Linked DNA regions of Homo sapiens: all the other regions are linked to region 1. Evidence: fine-mapped expression QTL. A gene starts in region 1. Each other region holds a variant in brackets. All regions are shown on one strand. Distances are from middle to middle.

What was found. PIP is the estimated chance that this variant, and not a neighbour inherited with it, causes the effect. A credible set is the group of variants that fine-mapping cannot tell apart.
Region 2: its variant is the best candidate, but not a certain one, in a credible set for the expression of PLPP3 in prefrontal cortex (ROSMAP, PIP 0.83).
Region 3: its variant is the best candidate, but not a certain one, in a credible set for the expression of PLPP3 in whole blood (INTERVAL, PIP 0.56).
Region 4: its variant is the best candidate, but not a certain one, in a credible set for the expression of PLPP3 in whole blood (TOPMed, PIP 0.79).
Region 5: its variant is the best candidate, but not a certain one, in a credible set for the expression of PLPP3 in lung (TOPMed, PIP 0.55).

The regions. Positions count from the first base shown.
Region 1 is chr1:56,577,384-56,581,522 of GRCh38, reverse strand. PLPP3 (phospholipid phosphatase 3) reads left to right here and starts at 1,960. Exons shown (of 6, transcript NM_003713.5): 1 at 1,960-2,645. The coding sequence starts at 2,507. RefSeq lists an enhancer at 3,975-4,139.
Region 2 is chr1:56,528,105-56,532,104 of GRCh38, reverse strand. All of the region lies in intron 2 of PLPP3 (phospholipid phosphatase 3), which reads left to right. Among named protein-coding and RNA genes, the nearest start is that of PLPP3, 49 kb to the left of the region's middle. RefSeq lists an enhancer at 47-782. The variant A/G (reference allele first, on the strand shown) is at 1,586.
Region 3 is chr1:56,466,146-56,470,296 of GRCh38, reverse strand. All of the region lies in intron 1 of LOC124904185 (a long non-coding RNA gene), which reads left to right. Among named protein-coding and RNA genes, the nearest start is that of LINC01767, 53 kb to the right of the region's middle. The variant G/A (reference allele first, on the strand shown) is at 2,425.
Region 4 is chr1:56,422,328-56,426,469 of GRCh38, reverse strand. All of the region lies in intron 1 of LOC124904185 (a long non-coding RNA gene), which reads left to right. Among named protein-coding and RNA genes, the nearest start is that of LINC01767, 9.4 kb to the right of the region's middle. The variant T/C (reference allele first, on the strand shown) is at 1,586.
Region 5 is chr1:56,104,498-56,108,648 of GRCh38, reverse strand. The region is part of intron 1 of LOC105378741 (a long non-coding RNA gene); the gene reads left to right. Among named protein-coding and RNA genes, the nearest start is that of LINC01755, 160 kb to the right of the region's middle. The variant G/T (reference allele first, on the strand shown) is at 2,483.

The sequences.
Region 1 (4,139 bases):
TGTTTTGTTTCCACTCTTTTAACTTTTCAAGAGAAGGTGTTTCTCAAGAAAAAGCTATCTCAAGCATCTGCCTTCTGAACTACCCTGGCTTTTACCTGTGCTATTTGAATTGAGAGTGCTGTGTGTGATTTGCAGTTGGATGCTTCAGCTCCAAAACTTCTTGGGAGAGTCAGATCTTCTTGCTTCCAGAAGATAGCAATGTTGTCTTTCTTTGCAAGCCCCACTTACTAACCGGTGCTAACTTGAGCTTAATTCAGTACACAGCAAATCCCGTGCTAGGTACTAGAGAGATGCCGCGGCGCTGATAACCTACACAGTTTGCTAGTCTTTACCATCTGTAACACCAAATCAGGCTGACATAGGCTCATGCCTGTAATCCTAGCACTTTGGGAGGCCGAGGCAGGCGATCATGACGTCAGGAATTTGAGACCAGCCTGACCAACATGGTGAAGCCCCATCTCTACTAAAAATACAAAAATAGCCGTGTGTGGTGGCACGAGCCTGTAATCTCAGCTACTCAGGAGGCTGAGGCAAGAGAATCCTTTGAATCCGGGAGGCGGAGATTGCAGTGAGCCAAGATTGAGGCACTGCACTCCAGCCTGGGCGATAGAGTGAGACGCCATCTCGGGGGAAAAAAAAATAGTTAGAAGCAAAGAGTTGACAGTGAAGTTAATTCTGTGCAGGAATGAAGAAAGTACTCAGAGAGGAGGTGACATTTCAGAGGATACTAAAGCAAGAGAAGCATTTCCCTAACTAGAGGAGGAAAGGGTATGCATTATAGGCAGAGCGTGCAGGAGAGCAGGGGTGTGGAGTGTGAAAGGATTGTACCAGAAAGGGCAATTGTACCAGAAAGGGTTGATGGTGGCTGCATATAAAGTTATCAAAACCCAAAACAAGTCAGTGTAAGAAAGAACATGATTCATATAATGTATCAAAAAGCTACAAATATTTCCATTTCTGAATGCACACAAAGAACCACCTGGAAAAAACATCCATTTATTGTCCACTGTGCCCAGGTCCATGCTAGGCACTATAGAAGATACAAGGGAAGGCCCTTGCCCTGGAAATGTTTATTCTCTATCTGGAAAAAAGATTAACTCACATAAAATAATTAAAAATAAGATGCCAGCCTCTAAGGAAAAATGTTAGATTGTCTGAAACTCAAGCAGAGAGCATTTTGGCTGCCCTGGAATTCCCCATAGTAGTAGAATTACTCTTGGGGCCAAGAGAGGGGTTGCCTGAGACTCCTTCACCCAGAAAAAAGGTAATTGCTAACCCTCACAGAGCACTTCCTATGTACTGGGCACTGTTCTAGGAGCTTATACGGATTAACAAATTAAGTCTTCACAACCACCCTATATGAAAAGGAACAGTTATCTCTAGTTACATACGGGGAAACTGAGGCACAGAGTCACAGGATTGAAATCCAGGAGATGTGGTTCCACAGTCGTGCAGTCTTTTTCATTTTAGTATTCTCAAAATCTAGCGTAGTACCCGGTGTTGGATGTTAAGATCTTAAACAAACAAACAACTTGTTTTCCTTAAAAATTATATTTTCAGGGTAATACAATTCAAGTCACAATAAAGACCTGAAAGCCTCAGGTTTGTAGGTGAGGAAAAATGCATTTTAGCTGTACAGCCCTAACTTTTACTTGACCCAAGGCCAGCAAGAAAATGTTTCTTTTTATTTATATATATTTTTTCTTTGGTGACAATTTGGTGTTTCTGAACGCTAGGGGCTCCCGGTTTCTCTGGTTTGAGAGTAACTTTTCCTTTTAGGACTTTTTTTTTTTTTTTTGAAGGGGGTGGGGGAAAATGTGGCCTTAATTATCCTACGTCTTAGGCAGCTTAAGGAAGGGGCTGTGCTTTCGGAATCCCATCCGAGCCAAGTAAGGAGGTCCCTCTCTCTCTCTCCCCCCACGTCTTCTCTTTTTAAAGGACCTCGTGAAATAAAAGTGCAGAAAACAAACCCAGGCGATCACAGCAGCAGCCGCCGCGGCAGCAGCACCAACAGCAGGAGGAGCAGGAGGAGCCGGAGGAGGAGGAGGAGGAGGAGGCAAAGTTAGAGTTGGGGCTGGCGCTCCGGAGTTGCTGGGCTCAGCGCAGCTCCCATTCATTAAGGAACCAGCTGCGGAGGAAGGTGGCCGAGCGCCCGCGCTGCCCACTCGCTCGCTCGCGCACTCAGACGCGCGCCACAACAGCGCGCCCCAAGCTGCGCAGCTCTGCAAAAGTTTCTGCTCGGGATCTGGCTCTCTTCCCCTTGGACTTTAGAACGATTTAGGGTTGACAGAGGAAAGCAGAGGCGCGCAGGAGGAGCAGAAAACACCACCTTCTGCAGTTGGAGGCAGGCAGCCCCGGCTGCACTCTAGCCGCCGCGCCCGGAGCCGGGGCCGACCCGCCACTATCCGCAGCAGCCTCGGCCAGGAGGCGACCCGGGCGCCTGGGTGTGTGGCTGCTGTTGCGGGACGTCTTCGCGGGGCGGGAGGCTCGCGCCGCAGCCAGCGCCATGCAAAACTACAAGTACGACAAAGCGATCGTCCCGGAGAGCAAGAACGGCGGCAGCCCGGCGCTCAACAACAACCCGAGGAGGAGCGGCAGCAAGCGGGTGCTGCTCATCTGCCTCGACCTCTTCTGCCTCTTCATGGGTGAGCCCAGCCCCGCTGTCCCTCGGCCCCTCGGCCCCTCGTCCCTCGGCGCGCGTCCCAGCCCAGTCCGGGGCCGCGCAGCGCCGCGCCGCGCCGCGCCGTCAGCTCCGGGGGGCCCCCGCAGCCTTCCTGGGGAGCCTTTGCGCCGCCCAGGCCCGAAGCCCCCGCCCTCCCCGATCCCACCGACTTCTTGGCCTGTACTTGAGTGGGTCTGGGCGTGCTTAAGCGTTCGTGGGCAACTGTTAAACCAGCTCAGTAAAAGTCGTCTCCACGTTGGAAGCCCGGGCGGAATCCCGCGGAAGGTGTGGGTTCGTCCTTTTAGCGTAGGGGAAGTTGGTTGAGCCGCGCTCTAGAGCCAGCGTATAGCTAGCTGGTCGCCCTCCATCCGAGTGAAATGGATCGCCCCGAGAGTCGGGCTCCTGCCTGGAGCCGAGCTGCCTTCCCGGCGGCTGTATGTAAACATCCAGCCCTTCCGCCTTTGCTGCCCAGGCTCGCCAGACTGGCTAGCCGGCCTTTTCACTTGCTCCTCTCCTGTAGGTGCTTTCCCCGGGCTTGGTGCTGGGCACGGCTTCAGCAATCACTTGAGTGCCTACTGTGTGCCAGGTGGTAGGCGGCTTCAGGGGCATCAGTTTTAGCTCGCCCACTCTCTGACTCGGTGCAGCAGGGGTGATGAGCCCCATTTCCCTGATGGGCACATTGAGGCACTGGGAAAGCCAGCTGCGATCTTGTTTGGGGACCACAAATTTAATTGCGCCCCCAGAAAGTTGAGGCGATGGTCCACTTCTGTTTTCCAAAGTCGTTGGAAGCCACAGCTGGAAGAGCGGTGGGAGTTAAAGGAATTGGAGTGGGAGGGCGAGGAGGATTTATGAACTCGGTAGGGGAGGGAGAAAGCGCTTCACAAGAATGAACAGGACTTCCAAGGTTGAAGTCAGCCTAGGATTTTTTTTTTTTTAAAGCGAATCATGGTGTAATGGAAAACGCACAGTACTTGTCATCAGAACACTGCCACTCTTGCCACTTGCTGGGTGTGCCACTTAACTGCCTCATGGGCCTCAGTTTCCTCAGCAGTTGAATGAGTGGGTTGAAGTAGATGCTCTCCAAGGCCCCTTCCCGCATTAGGAACTCGGATTTGGTCCAGAAGCTGTTCTGCCAACTCTGCTAACTGAAGAAACATCTGTGTTCCCAATTCAGTTCCCTTAAAATACAGCTCCTGCACAGACTTAAGTCCCCTTTGAAATGGATTTGTCCATGCAGATTTTGCAGACCAGAGACTTCTTAGGCTGGAGTTATACCTCTCTGGTATTCATGACTCTTTCTGTAGCACTGCTCTTACTGTGCAGTGTCCTCTTGATGGTCCATAGTAAAGAAAGATAGGATTCTTAGAGTTTAAAAATAAGAACGGCCCCCTTCAGGTAAGAAGAGACAGCTGAAGGTATAATTGTGCTCTGTGGAAGGGTGGAGGGGTGGAAAGGAAGAAAAGTCACTGTAGTTCAG
Region 2 (4,000 bases), 49 kb after region 1:
ACTCTCATGTCCTGGAAGAAGTGAGAACAGCAGCAATTCTTCCTTAGTTAGGTACAGCTCTTAGGGATTCATGACTATTTGAAAAACGTATCAATACGGAGGTGATGATATGCTCCATTTGAAGTCATAATGCTTAGGAGGCCGAGAAATACTTTCTGTGAGGGGCAGTGTGTGTTGGGGATGGGGTGGAGAGTCAGATAACATTTATGAGCTATTTAATGGACCAGAAACTCATGTCTTATCTTAAATCCTCTTCAACAGCTATGTGAGGTTGCTATTATTTACCACATTTGACAAATGAGGGAGGACACTGAGGCTTATAAGGTTGAAGTGACTAGCCCGAGGTTACTCTGCTTAGTGAATGGGGGAACACGAATTAAAACCTAGATCTGTTTGGCTTTCAAGCCTAAGTGCTTTAACAGATGCTAATGAAGGCCCACTCTGGTCGGTGCTATGTAGAGTGCTCTTTATTTAGTTAGCTATAAAAGCTTTTAGTTACTGGGCTTGGAGAGTTAAATGTATGGAGGAAGATAAAACATCTAGACCACTGGGCAGATGACTGCCCAAGATTGACAGTGTGCATCAATGGTTTGTAGAGATGGTGATCACCTGCTGTGTGTAGGTAGGTGCCGGGTGATACCTCCCTTATAGCAAGCAGGCTTTGTGGTAGGCACCTTGGCCTATAAGCTGATGTGTAAAATACAGATCTTGCCTTTGGATCTTATGGTTTAAAGGGAATTCAAGACAAGTACAAGTCTGACTATAGGATTAGACCCTCAAGGAAAGGAAATAATTAGTCTGAGAATAAGAGGAGAGTCAGGGCAGTGCATGGTGGTGGCTGCTAGGGAGGGGAGAGCTTCAAGGACGAAACATATCAGATGCTGCAGATTGTCTGAGGTCTAAATAAAGTGCTATGGGAGTTCAGAGGAAGAGCACTTAAGGCTAAGGCTTATGCCAAGGCTTCATCATCATCATTATTCACTGAGCACTCGTCTCATATAATTTTCACCACAACCCTGCTTTTGATACTGTCATCATCTTCATTTTTAGAGATAAGGAAACTGAGACTTAGAGAGCTCAGTTGTACAAGACTCATAAGTCAAAGAGCCAAACTCTAACCCAGAACACTAGTTGGCACTTGAGCTCTACTTTAAGGCATAAGTAGGATTTTCGTCAGAGAACCTGACCTAGGCAGAAGGAGTGGCTTCAGCCATTTTAGAGACTTCAAAACAATGAAGTGTTTTCAGGGAATGTAGAGCAGACCTGTTTGGCTGAATGAATGGAATATAAGGGAGTAGACAAGGTTACAGCAGGAAAAGAAGATTGTGGCAAGATCGTGAAGACCCTTGAATGCTGAGGAATTTTTACTCCAGCTAATTGGCTAGAGGTTGATGAGAGTATTTTAAGTGAGCTTGGTCAATTTTCTAATTAAGGTAAAGATGAGGCCTGAACCACAGTGGTGGCAATGCAAGGGAAATAGAAAAAGATGGATGCAAAAGACCTTGCAAAAGCCGGATGGACAATGGGATAAGGGAGAGGAAGGAGTCTAAGATTGCACATCTTTGTCAGTCATATGCTTGGTGGC[A/G]TCTTGAGCAGAACTAGAGGGAAGAGAAGTGAAGTTTGGGACAGGAGTGGGAATGGGTGTGACCTTAGACTTGGTTAATTTGAAATGGTACTAACATCTCCAGGTGGGAGAGTTAGCAGAAGATTGGAATTGGGCCAATTAGGGGAAAGGGGTAGGCTGAAGCTAGAGAGAGACAGAGAGATGCCCTTTTGAAGGTCATCTTCACAGAGGTAACAATTGAAGCTATTGAAGCAGCTGAGATCACAGCAGAAAGCCAGGAACACAATCCTAGGGAAGACCCACATTTATTGGGTAGAAGTCAGATGTGGAACCACTAGAAGAAGCAGACATACATTTAGAAATAGTAACAAAAGCATGGTGGTGTGATATTAAGGAAGCCTAGGAAATTCAAGGTAAAAAAAAAAAAAAAGAGTAAGAGGTTGCAGTAGGCAATGCTGCAGAAAGAACAGCCAGGAGATTCTTGCATGGACTGGCAGAGTTGGGCATTCAGGAGGCCCATGACTCTGAGTCCCTGACTTTTGGGAAAACAATGATGCTTTATGCCTCAGACTCTCTTCTTCATGAGACTTGTGGGCACAGGGCAGCCACTGCTAATTTCAACCATAAATAACTTCTGTAGCCCCTCTCTGGCCTCTTTGCTGTCTTTATTCTAGATATTGGAGTTCTGACTTACCCATAAAGCCCAGAAATTATACTGGTGTCTTTGGACAGATCTATGTCTTCATTACCTTTCCCAGACAGTGAGGCACTGATCTTCTGAAAAAGGCTGAAGATGATAACCAAGTGACAGAAGAATCAGAGAATAAATTTCCAATCAACTATTTCTAGTTACTAAAGACGCTGCACTTTATTGCAGTAGATGGAGCAGTCAGTGCCAGAGAAAATACAGCCATACATCTGTCTCCATCCTTAGAAACAGGACCCAGTACATTATATTTTTCCTTTCCTTTGGGACTGAGAACTAAAGTGAGAAATGTGATTCTCCCTTCACGATTCTCCATCATCAACAGTTTGTTGAATTAATCTTTTCTGGGCAAAAGAAGTTCATCAATTCATGTAACCGAGATGTAAAAGAACAACTTGACCCTCTGTGGCTAGCAGGAACTTAGAGGTGCAGGTGCCTTTCAAGATGGCAGGCCCTTACTGGGTGTTCTGTGAACATATGTCTCTCTGGAGACATACATACTACTGCCTAGTAGGACTTCTAAGAGAAAGCCAGCTCGATGCCATTGGGAACAGCACAGGAATTAGAAGGAGGAAGCCCCAGCTTCAGTGATGGTCTTCTTGCTGTCTCATTTTTATCAGAGTGATTCACTGCCCTCTCTGGCCTTCATCATACTCATTTATATAAGTGTTGGTAATAATTTAGTAATTCATATGGTGTTGTGAGAAGCAAACAGTATAGTGGATGTGAAAGTGCTTTGAAAGCTGTAAAGTACTAAGCCAATATTATTAAAGCAGATCAGAGTATAGGAAAGTTTGTCCTTCAGACTCAGCGGTGGAAGATGAGTTCTCAGTCTCTGAAAGAGATTGTTAGGCTGCTGTGCAAAAATATTACTTTTCTTGGGATAATTTACAAATAGAGTGGAATGTTAAAAATAACACAAAACAGTAGAGTAGGGTTGTCCCTTCTGCTTTGGGTTTAGACTTTGCTTCTGTCTTGATCTGCTGAAAAATACATACTAGATAAAATGATCAAAAGCAATGTCATCCATACATACATTTTCTGGTCCTACCCTGGAGGGGTGGTATTTCCAAACTCTTCATTTAGGTATGGTATCGTCCAAGGAGCTCTTGGAAGAGATACTCTCTACAAAACATGTTTTTTATTTGTTTGTTTGCTTTCCTCTTCAATGGAGGGAAGAAAAAAGTTAACTTTTGGAGGGCTCTCCTGCTAGGTGCCAGGCGATTGACATATCACCTTATCTAATTCCCTGGCAATCCTGCCACATAGATATTATTAACCTTATTTTATAGATGAGGACATCTAAGCCCAGAGAGGTAAAGTCACATGCCTAAGGTAATAGACAAGATTCAGACAGGTTTTTCTGGCTACAACGTTGTTGCTTCTTTCACCACCTCTTGCTCTATCTTTTCCCAAAAATCTATCCTAATTTTTCTTCATATTTCCTCTCCATAACAGTTAAATATTTGTAAATATGTGGGCAGTTGAGCTCTTTTTCACCAGAAAAGACAGGAAGAGGAGCTGTCTTGCAGTTGGAGCCAACCTCTCTCCAAACTGCAGCCCTTCTCAGGCAAGGACTGATCCCTTTCTGTCCCCTTGTAGCTTAATTGCAATGCTTTCCCATTTTATTAGTTTCCAGATTCTGTGCCAAGTGCTTTAAAAGGCAGGTAGGGGAGAATTCTCTGCTTGCCTGGCAGCCTGCCATCACCCCCAGAATCTGTTGCTTGCTG
Region 3 (4,151 bases), 110 kb after region 1:
TGAAATAAATGTTATTATCGCATCTTTTGAAGGATGAAAATTGAGGTTCAGGAGGTGAAGTCACTTGTCCAAGTTCACACAGTGCATAGGAAGCAGAATGAGAAACTGGAACAAGTTCTGGGAAGTGGAAGCAAGCTCTTCTTGAATCATGAGTCAGTCACTGGCACGGTCAAGTGTGATGATTAATGAACTGAATAGAAAGCTAAATAATCCTTTTTTAAAAAAAAAGTTTTATTTTATAGATTCAGGGGTACATGTGCAGGTTTGTTATATGGATATATTGTGTAGTGGTAGGGTTTGGACTTTTAGGGTGCCTGTCACCCAAACAGTGAACATTGTACCCAACAGGTAATTTTTCAACCCTCTCTTCCTCTGACGCTTCCCCCTTTTGGAGCCCTTAGTTCTGTTATTACTCTCTAGATGTTCATGTGTACTGATTCTTTAGCTCCCACTTGTAAGTGAGAACATGCAGTATTTGGTTTTCTGTTTCTGAGTTATTTCTTTTAAGATAATTGCCTCTAGCTCCATCCATGTTGCTGCAAAAGACATGATTTCATTCTTTTTAATTGGTGGTGTAGTATTCCATGGCGTATATGTACCATATACATCTATTTTTGAGACAGAGCCTTGCTCTGTCACCCAGGGTAGAGTGCAGTGGTGTGAACTCAGCTAGCTCACTGCAGCCCTCCACCACCTGAGTTCAAGTGATTCTCCTGCCTCAGCCTCCCGACTAGCTGGGATTACAGGTGTGCACTACCAGGCCTGGTTAATTTTTGTATTTTTAGTAGAGATGGGATTTCACCATGTTGGCCAGGCTGGTCTCAAACTCCTGGCCTCAAGTGATCCACCCACATCAACCTCTCAAAGTGCTGGGATTATAGGTGTGAGCCACCGCACCCAGCCATATTTTCTTTATCAGTTCAGCTGCTGATGGACACTTAGGTTGATTCCATGACTTTGCTGTTGAGAATAGTGCTGCAATAGACATACAAATACAGGTACAAGTACTGGGTAGATACCCAGTAGTGGGGTTGTTGGGTCAAATGATAATTTTATTTTTAGTTCTTTGAGAAATCTCCATACTGTTTTTCCTAGATGTTGTACTAGTTTACTAATTTCTTCCCCACCAACAGTGTATAAACATTCCCTTTTTTCCACATCCACACCAACATCTGTTGTTTTTTGACTTTTTAATCATAGCCATTCTGACTGGTGTAAGGAATACATTTTCACAACAATAATCGCCAAGTTATATGACCTCAAGAAAGGTAGTCGCTGTCTCTGAGCCTCAGTTTCCTCTTCTGTAGTGAAAAATGGACTCTGAGTGCCGAGGTCTCTCTCAGCTCTCGGGTGCTGGGATTCAGTCTAACTCTCCCTGAATTCCTCAGCCATCATGTGAGCCATTTAAAAATGATAGATTCTTCCAGGAGGAGCGATGTCTCTTTAACTAGAATCGTCAAGGTCAGGCCAAGCAAACTTATTTGGGGTTTTTGATGGGATCGCTCTTAATTGATTGGGGTGAAGAGTTCAGAGCTAAGTTGGAGGATTGGCTTTTCAGCTCGGTGCTGGCAGAGACTGGGGCTTGACATGATTTGAGGTTGTCTAATGACAGCAATGCTCTTAAACAGCTGACGGGAGAGGCTTTCGTCCAGAACTCAGCAACGCTTTCCACTCCTTGGAGAATAAGAAGGGAGCTGCTGAACAATGAATAAATATGCTGTCTTGGTCACCAGTGAAGCCATGTCAAATTTCTGGGGCTTTCCTATCTTTTACTCAACTTACTGCCTGAAGGATTTTCGGTGTTCCTTGTGTGGATACGTGTGCATTGTTCCTTTGTTTGCTTTTCTTTCTTTCTTTTTTTTTTTTTTTGAGATGGAGTCTCTCTCTGTCGCCCAGGCTGGAGTGCAGTGGCGCGATCTCAGCTCACTGCAAGCTCCACCCCCTGGGTTCATGCCATTCTCCTGCCTCACCCTCCTGAGTAGCTGGGACAACAGGCGCCCGCCACCACGCCCGGCTAATTTTTTGTATTTTTAGTAGAGACGGGGTTTCACCATGTTAGCCAAGGTGGCCTCGATCTCCTGACCTCGTGATCTGCCTGCCTCAGCCTCCGATCTTTTTTTTTTAAAGATTTTTAAAAAAAATTCTAGGTCTGAAAACATTTCGGATCATATGAAATTTGATTTACTTTGCTCTCCAGAGTCTATGAGTGGTTTTTATCTCTTCTGATATTTGTATTTTCTTTCTCCTTATTACTCATTTAACTAAAATTTATTAATAATAGTAAGAGTTAAAATTGGGAGAACTTAACCTATCAATGGATACCAGGCACCATTGTTTCAGATATGAGGAGGTACTATATTGTTTCAATCAATAAACATTCATTGAACACCCAACAATTTCTAGACATTATTCTAGACAAGAGGC[G/A]TTCAGCAATGACGAAGGCAAAGTCTCTTTCTTCATGGGGTTTAGACTGTGGTGGGGAACACAGACAATAAGCAAGTAAACAAATATTTGGTATATTTTCAGGTTACCTAAATACATCTTCAGTGCAAAACAACCTTAACACGGCAGGTATTATAAATTCATTTTTACATATGCAGAAATACCAATGTGCAGATAATGAACTCACCTGCCCAAAGGGAGATGAGAGATTGGATTTAAATCCAGTCTTTCTAGTACATATTGAGGCTGTTGAAGCTTTTTATTGTGACACATCTTTACTGAGCCCAGAGACAGATAAAGTATGAAGCTCCGAGGCTTGAACTCCAGGGCGCTTCACTTGCATGGGACCTTTCTAAATTCACCTTATACCTAATTTTTAATCTTTTTCCCAATGAGGGCCTACCGCATTTTGTAAGCCTGGGGTAGGGAGGATGGGTCTCACAAAATCTAGATGGACCCTCACTGAGCTACAGATTCAAAGGCGTTCCAGGTTCCCTCAGAAGCCAGTGGAAGAGACAGATGTGAAAACAAATAATCTTTTTTCTTTCTTTTTTTTTTTTTTTGTGAGATGGAGTCTTGCTTTGTCACCCAGGCTGGAGTGCAATGGCACGATCTCGGCTCACTGCAGCCTCCACTTCCCAGGTTCAAGTGATTCTTGTGCCTCAGCTTCCCAAGCAGCTGGGATTACAGGTGCCCACCACTGTGCCTGGCTAATTTTTGTATTTTTAGTAGAGACGTGGTTTCGTCATGCTGGCCAGGCTGGTCTCCAACTCCTGATCTCAGGTGATCCGCCTGCCTCGGCCTCCCAAACTGCTGGGATTACAAGCGTGAGCCACTGAGCCCAGCTGAAAACAAATAAACTGAATACATAAAAATAAAAGCTATAATAGAAGTGTTACAGGCTTAATCATTCCCTTGCCCCACTTCATATGCTGAAACCCTAACTCTTAATGGGACTGCATTTGGAGATAAGGCTGTTAGAGAGATAGTTAAGGTTAAATGAGGTCACATTTAACTTTAATTATAACCCTAATTTAATAGTGCTCTTAAAATAAAAGGAAGAGGCACCAAAGACACTTGCACAAAGAAGGAAGTCCCTGTGAGGACATAGGGAGGAGGTGGCTGTCTGCAAGCCAGGAAGAGAGCCCTTAGCAGGAATTGAATTTGCTGACACCATGATCATGAACTTCTAGCCTCCAGAACTGTGAAGGAATCAATTTCTGTTGTTTAAGCTACCCAGTTTGTGTATTTTGTTTTGGCAACCCAAGCAGAGTGATACAAATCGGATGGATTTGAGGATGGGGGAAGCAATTCTGGCAGGGAAAATAACCCCAGCAAAGGTAGGGAGACTTGAGAGAACATAATATATTTGTGGAACCATAAATAATAATAGTGTATTTTTGTGGAGGATGAAGGCAGAGCAGGAATGGCTGAAAGATGAATGATGACAAGCGGGCAGGGAAAAGTCACAAAAGGCATGGCATGCCAGGCTGAAGAATTTGGGCTTTATCTGATAGGTATGGGGTGCACCTGATTTGCCTTTAAGCAGAGGGAGAGTCAGAATCCTCATGGTGGCAGAAGGGGTCTGGGTGAGAAGAGGGAGATTAATTAGGTGACTAATGTAAGAGCTCAGGTAAGAAAGCATGTGGCCCTGAAGTAGGTCATGGGGATAGAGATAGGGATATGTTTTGGAACTGGAATGAGAGCAA
Region 4 (4,142 bases), 160 kb after region 1:
TGTCTAGGGCAAACAAATGGAAGATGATTTCTTCTCACCCATCTTAGTAGAGAAATTCTACAGGGGATCTGTAACCCTGACGATCCGTTGCAATCAGAACCTTTGGGTGACTGTTGAGTCTTTAGACATCATACAGGAAAATCTTGGTGGAAAGAAAAATTATAGCTGGCCCTTGTGGATTTTGTAGTTTTGGGCCAGGAAGACTAAAAACAATCTCAATTCTGGTCTCAGGAAGAGGAGTGAGAGTATGGGTCTGCCCAGTGGCTGAGTGGGTAGGTGAACTGGCTGGGTTAGCTGCTGCTGTTGGGGAGGGGGAGTTTCTATTTCTTTCTCTCCCCTTCAGATCTTTCTCCTTGCTTTTCACATACCCATCTTTCTCCTTGCTTTCCACATATACTGACTGAACATTACCTGTGTGTCTAGTTTGGCGCTGTGGTAGATACATGGATAAAGTAGGTCTGACCCCTGCTCTCAAAGTATCTACAGTCTAGGAGGGAAAATGGAATATTTTGATAGATATGCTCATTGATATGCTAATATTGACAGATATGTTAATATCTATGGATATGTTCCATTTCCCCTCCTAGACTGTAGATAATCATCAGAGGGTTGCATCATTTACAAAGTGCATTTAGTTGGATATACATATTTAGGAACCCATGTGTGGCCAGGTGTGGGAAAGCAGAGATAAATGTTGCAGAATCCCTGTTTCCGAGAAGCCGAATTATAGGAGAGGAACTCCTGAAGCAGAGTGTTATGGGGGAAGCATGTGAAAGGCACCGAGGAGCACTGAGGAAGGAGGGGAGGAGTTAGGGAAGCCACAGACATGTTTCATCCTTAAAGCCAGGCCTTTATCCTGCCAGAGACAATCCCATTCATGTTTCATTTTGATGGTCTTTGAAGAAATAAAATTTGGATTGATTATTTCAGAATCCTTCATGACTGTGAAATCCATATGATGAGCTCCATTTTTCCATTGAAGGAACAGAGGCCCAGAGCAGTGAAGTGACTCACTCAAGGTCAAACAGCTGGCACATGGCCAAGCTGGGCTAACCAGGTCTTTTGACTCATGTTCTTTCTGAGACGGCCCACTGCCTCTACAAGGGAGAGAGTGACAAGTGCCTTGTGCCCATGCACCATCTACTTTTAGCTCTTTCCTTGGACCAAGGCCCAGAAAGTGCCCCGTTGTGTCACATCTGTTCAAGCCTGTGGGTGATCTGTGGGCTCTGGCTTAATCCGGTAGAAGGATTTAGTAACATAGGTTGCCTGGCCTCTCAGTGGGAGAGCTGGTTAATCTCCCACAATCCTTGTTGTTCCAGCTCCTTCCCTTAGTTACGCTGATTGGACTGAGGCTTGGAGCCCCATTTTGGGGTCTTTGAAAAGTGAATGGCAGCAGTCACTCTGAAGGTTTCCCTGAAGATGCATTGAGATTCAGGGCTTAAATGGGGCACAGGGTAAAGCTGCCTTGTCCCAGGCAGTGAGGCATACAAAAGTGGGTGGGGTTCTCTGAAGCAGTTGCAAAAAAAGGGAAGGAAAGGGCATCCACACTGACTGAGTTAGCACATTGTGCATAGCATAGCAAATT[T/C]ACATACATTTGAGAGGAAACATTCACCGCCAAAGGACATGAAGATTTTGCAGTAAGCTTCAAAGACTCGTCTTGATGATATAGTCACTTCCTTGTCATTTTTTTCTGCTAGAATAGCAATCTCCTTAAAATGATGTAGGTGAAAGCATCCTGTTCCATGCCCACCTGGAAGCCCCTCTCTCGTGTTTCACAGATGGATGGGAGGAAAGTGGTGCAGAGATGTCAAGCAAGATCACAGAATTAATCATTGCAGAAGAGACTTGAATTTAGGGCTTGGACTCCAGGACAGCATGTGGGACAAACGGAACACTTCTAAGGCCACTGAGCCCTTAGGAGGAGGGTAGAGTTGGGGGGTTCATGCCCAATACATGGGCATGTTTGCTGAATGCATACAATCCAGATGAGATGGGTGGGGGCAAAGAGACTGCTTGGCCCAGTGCTAGGCTCTGTGGTCAGGTGCTCACAGAGACATGCCTGCAGCTCCCACTTTTTCTAGAGGAGCCAGTCAGATCCCAGCTCTGGAGGGCAAAGGCCATTCCTCTGAGAGAATGACCTCTTTCTCTCAAGAAGCTCCTTCTTTTAGAACAGTGGCTACTCCAGCCCCAGCCATCGAACACAACTGAACCAAGAAATAAATGGTTCTCATGGCCAGGGAGACGCTTCTACAGTTTAATTTGGCATAATTATACATTCCCTCAATAGGTTTTGTGATGTGCATTGTTATTTCAGCAAAAAATTGTTTGAGTATAAAAAGTTTTTTATTATAAAGAAAAATCGTTTTTTTTTTTGTTTGTTTTTTTCAAGGTCTTTATCATCCCCCTAGGGCTGGTTCTTTCCCACATTCGTGACAGACAGATCCTGGGGTTGCTTTCCCCCCTTTCCTAATTCATGCTTTGAAGAGAGAGGGAAGCCTAAATGATATGGTATGACGCTAGGGGCTGTGAAGGCCAGAGGAAGGCCAGGTCAATGGTGAAGGGAGAAGTGTGCCTCCTTGAAATGGAGATGGTGTCAGCCTCCCTGAGCCAGGCTGTGTCTGGTCAAGGACACAGACACTGTATGCTGGCAGATATACTGTACTTACTCAGGACTCAAATCCTGGGTCGGCCACTTGCTAGCTGTGTGACATTTGACAAGGTGCTCAACCTTGCCCTTTCCTTCAGTCTAGTTTGCTTTCCAAACTGAGGTAAAAATATTCCTGAGAGAAGTGTGTCACTGCTGGAGGATATAAAGTCACTCAATCAATAAACATGGCATTTGCTAATGAAGCACCAGTTTTATCAAAACATTGGTGGTGGTGGTGGTGGTTGTGTGTGTGTGTGTGTACCTTGGCAATAATAATATAATATTTACATTCAAACAAATACAGCTATTTAGTGGAAGAGATAGTCAAATGCTCATGAATTTTAAGGCTGAACAGGGAGCTTTGAAGCCTCTTAATGTTTGCCTTGGCCTACTTTTGCCTATATATTCTCTCTTGGTGCTTACCCATTCTCTCTTTTTCCCTGTTTCAAGGTCCTGCAGAGATAAATGTGACAGAAAGCTGTTTCTTCTATGAAATGAAAATGACATCCCCTGCCCAAGAGCAGTGGTATAATAATTCCATAAGATAATGTATTTAAAATCATTCAAGGTTTGCTGATAAGCCATTAGCTACAACACCAAAGGTACAAGGCATGAGAGAAAAAGCTGGTAACTTGGATTTCATTAACATTAAAAAATTCTGCTTTGTGAAAGACACTATTGAGACAGTCAAAAGGCAAGCCATAGAATGGGAGAAAATATTTGCAAAACACATGTCTGAGAAAGGACTTATATCCAATATATACAAAAGACATATCAACCCAACAATAAGAAAACAAACAATCCAATTAAAAAGTGAGCAAAAGGTGCAATCAGACACCTCACCAAATAAGATGTACAGAAGGGAAACAATCATGTGAAAAGTTGATCAACATAATTTGTCGTTAGGGAATTGCAAGTTAAAACAACCACAAGATATCACTACACACCTATTAGAATGGCCAAAATCCAAAACACTGACAATACTCAATGCTGATGAGGATGTGGAGCAATAGGAACTTTCATTCATTGCTTGTGGGAATGCAAAATGGTATAGCCACTTGAGAAAACAGTGTGGCAGTTTCTTACAAAGCTAAATCTAATCCTTCTCTATGATCTAGCAATATACTCCTAGGTATTTATCCAACTGATTTGAAAACGAATGTTCAAACAAAAACTTGCACACTATTGTTTATAGCAGCTTTATTTTAATAATTGCCAAAAACTGAAACAAAACAAAACAACGAAACAAAATGTCCTTCAATAAGTGAATTGGTGGACAAATGGTGGTACATATACACAATGGAATACTATTTCATGATTCAAAACATAAGGTGCTATCAAGCTGTGAGAGGATATGAATGAATCTTAAATGTGTATTGCTAAATGAAGAAAGAGTCTGAAAAGGCTGCATAGTGTACAATTCCAAGTGTATGCCATTCTAGAAACAGCAAAACTGTAATGGGAGTAAAAAGATAGGCCGGGCGCGGTGGCTCAC
Region 5 (4,151 bases), 470 kb after region 1:
CCCTGTGAGATTTATGCTTTCAGGAGGCTCTATTTTTGTATATTTTGAGGTTTTGTTTCAAGATTTAGAAACAAATTTCTTTTAGCATTACTTGTAGTGTTTGCTTGGTAGTGGTAAATTCTCTCAGCATTTGCTTGTCTGAAAAAGACTTCGTCTCTCCTTCATTTATGAAGCTTAGTTTCACTGGATACAAAATTCTTGACTGATAATTATCTTGTCAAAGAGGCTAAAAATAGGACTCCAATCCCTTCTATCTTGTAGGGTATCTGTTGGGACATTTGCTCTTACTCTGATAGGTTTTCCTTTTTGCCTCCCAGCTCTTAAGATTCTTTCCTTCGTCTTGAGTTTAAATAACCTGATGAGTATGTGCCTAGGCAATGATCTCTTTGTGATGAATTTCCCAGATGTTCTTTGAGCTTCTTGTATTTGGATGTCTAGATCTCTAACAAGAGCAAGGAATTTTCCTCAATTATTCCCTCAAATAAGTTTTCCAAACTTTAGAGTTCTCTTCTTCCTGAGGAACACCAATTATTCTTATGCTTGGTCATTTACCATAATCTCTAATTTATTGGAGCCTTGTTCATTTCTTGAAAATTCTTTTTTCTTTGTCTCTGGCAGATTTGGTTACTTCAAAAGCCTTGTCTTTGAGCTCTGATGTTCTTTCTTCTACTTGTTCAATTCTATTGTTGAAACTTTCCAGTGTATTTTGCATTTATCTAAGTGAATTTATCATTTCCAGAAGTTGCAATTGTCTTTTCATTGTGATATCTATTTCTCTGGAGACATTTTCATCCATATCATGTATTTTTTTTATTTCTTTAAGTTGGTTTTCACCTTTCTCTGGTACCTCTTTGAGTAGCTTAATAATCAACCTTATGAATCTTTATCTGGCAATTCAGAGATTTCTTCTTGGTTGGGATCCACTGATGGAGAGCTAGTGTGATTTTTGAGGGTTTTATAGAACCTTGTTTTCTCATATTACCAGAATTACTTTTCTGATTTTTTCTCATTTGGGTAGACAGTTTTAGTGGAAAGATCTAAAACTCAAGGACTGCCATTCAGATTCTTTTGTCCCATGGGGTGATCCCTTGATGTGGTGCTCTCCTCCTTCCCTTCATGACCAGGTTTCCTGAGAGCCAGAGTGTAGCAATTGTTTTTATCTTTCTGAGTCTAGCTACCCACTGGGGCTCCTGGGCTCCTGGCTGATGCTGGAGAATGTCTGCAAAGAGTCCTCTGATGTGATCTGTCTTCAGGTCTCCCAGCCATGAATACCCCCACCTGCTCTAGTGCAGGTGGCAGGGGAGTGAAGTGGACTCTGTGGGAGTCCTTGGTTGTAGTTTTGTTTAGTGCACTGGTTTTCTTGAATGCTGGTTATGCTAGCAGTGAAGTTGTCACACAGATAGACTCAGGACCTCTGATTAGCCATGGTGTTGCAGGCAGTAGAATTAACTGTTGTTTTTTCCTTATTTGTAGCAGAGTTGTTCTGTTTTGAGTTGCTGTAATGGCTTGAGTTAGTTGGCCTCCAGCCAGGAGGTGGCACTTTGAAGAGAGCACCAACTGTGGTAATAGAAGGGGGATATAAGCTTGTCCTACATTGGCCAGGATAAGTACTTGGGTTTCTCAGGCAATTGGCAGGGCCATAGAGTTCCCAAGTGTTCATGTCTTTTGCTTTGCCTACCAGGGCAGGTAGAGAAAAACCATCAGTTGGGGACAGGGTTAAGCAGGTCTGAGCTCAGACTTTCCTTGAGCAGGGCTTGATGTGGCCACTGTGGGGGATGGGTGTTGGTTCTCAGGCCAATGGAGTTATGTTCCCAGGGGGATTATGGCTGCCTCTGCTATGTCATACAGGTCACCAGGGAAGTGGGGAAAAGCCGGCAGTGACAGGCCTCACTTAGTTCCCACGCAGCCAGCAAGGCCAGTCTCACTCTCACTGTGCCCCACTAACAGCACCAAGTTTATATCCAGGCAGCCTGTGAGCAGGGCTGATATTTTGCCCAAGGCTACAAGCCTCCCTTCTGAGAAAGCAAGCAGGGCTCTCAGTCCTCTCCTTTCCCCACCTGCCCTCACCATCAACTGTCACTTCTGTGCTTGTATCTGCACTTCCTGTCTGCCCCCCTCAAACCCAGATTCTACTCAGGAAAATTCATGCTCAGTCAAAGTTATTACAAAATTTAATTGTAATAAACTAGAAGCTTCCTTCACCTTGTGGCCCCTGCCCAATTTCACTGGCTGCTTTCTCCAAGGACCCCTTTGAGGTAATAAAGCCAGGGATGGCTTTCCTGGGCTCGAGCTGATGACCAGGAGTGCCTACAGGGCTCTTCCTTCTGCTGCTTCTGCTTTTATATTTCACTTGGCTCCCTATATCCATTTCAGCTTTAGGTAAGGTTAAATTCTTCTCCTATGATCTGGATTTCCATTTTCCTCAATGGGGATAAGAATTCAAAGTGGACTTTTCCCCCCCTCACACTTTGGGAACTCACAG[G/T]TTTTCAGCTGTCTCGGGAGTTCATAGTGGCAAACTGCTTCTTTCAAAGGGTCTGTGAATTCTTTTGGTTTTCCTGGTATGTCCCTGCAGTGGTTCTTGGAGCAAAACTTCACAGTGTGAGTCTCCACACACTGTTCTGTCCATCCAAGTGGGAGCTGCACGTTAGTCCTGTCACCTGTCCACAATTTTCCCCAGCCACCTGTGTTATATTCATTTAACCAGTGAGAAACATAGGCTCTGAGGTCACTGAGCTTGCTCAAGATCACACAAGGGTGGACTGCTGAGCCTACCTCTCAACCTCAACAGCTGTGGCATTCCATCCTTTGTCAGTCACTTCAACTTACCTCTCTTATTTCTTGGAATTTCTCCTATGACCAAAATGAACAAAAGTTGTATATCACTAAGGAGGAAAAGAAATATCTTGGGAGACTACCACGCAGGCCAATTTGAGGAGGATTTGGGAAGGGCAGCCTTCTTGGTGGAGGGGATTCTTTCTGTTGTTACCTCACCAGGACAGAAGTCACTCAATCTCCCTGTGATCAGTGATCCTTTGATGTTACTATTGGGATTGTTGTGGGTCACCACAAACCATACCCATATAAGACGGTGATGTTAATCAATAAATGTGTGTGTTCTGACTGCTCCACCAACCACCTGTTCCTCTGTCTCTTTTCCTTTCCTCAGGTATCCCTATTCTCTAAGAGGAAACGTTGAAATTAGACCATTTAATAACCTTATAATGGCTTCTAAGTGTTCAAGTGAAAAAAAGAGCCTAATGTTTCTCACTTTAAATCAAAAGCTAGAAATAATTAAGTTTAGTGAGGAAACCATGTTAAAGGCCAAGATAAGCTGAATACTAGGCACCTTCTGCCAAATGTTTAGCCAAGTTGTGAATGCAAAGAAAAAGTTCTTGAAGGAAATGAAAAGTTCTCCTCCAGTGAACACACAAATGATAGGAAAGTGAAATGACCTTGTTGCTGATATGGAGAAAATTTGAGTGATCTAGATAGAAGATCAAACCAGCCACAACATTCCTTTAAGTCTAAGCCTAATCCAGAGCAAGGCCCTAACTTTCTTTAATTTTGTAAAGTCTGAGAGAGGTAAGGAAGCTGCAAAGAAAAGTTGGAAGCTAGCAGAGGTTGGATCATGAGGTTTAAGAACGAAGCCATCTTCATATATAAAAGGGCAAGGTGAAGCATCAAGTGCTGATGTAGAAGCTGCAGCAAGTTATCCAGAAGATCTAGCTAAGATTATTGATGAAGGTGGCTACACTAAACAATTGATTTTCAATGTAGATTAAAACAGCTTTATTGGATGAAGATACCATCTTTCATAGCTAGAGAGAAAAAGTCAATGCCTGGCTTCAAAGCTTCAAAGGAGAGGCTGACCCTCTTGTCAAAGGCTACTGCACATGGAAACTTTAAATTAAAGCCATTGCTCATTTGCCATTTTGAAAATCCTATGGCCTTTCAAAATTATGCTAACTTTACTTTGTCTGTGCTCTAGAAATGTAACAAAAAAGTGTGGATAATAGCACATCTGTTTATAGTATGGTTTACTGAATATTTTAATGCCATTATTGAGACCTACTGCTCAGAAAAAAATACTTTAAAAATATTACTGTTCATTGACACACATAGTCACCCAATAACTCCAATGAATATGTAAA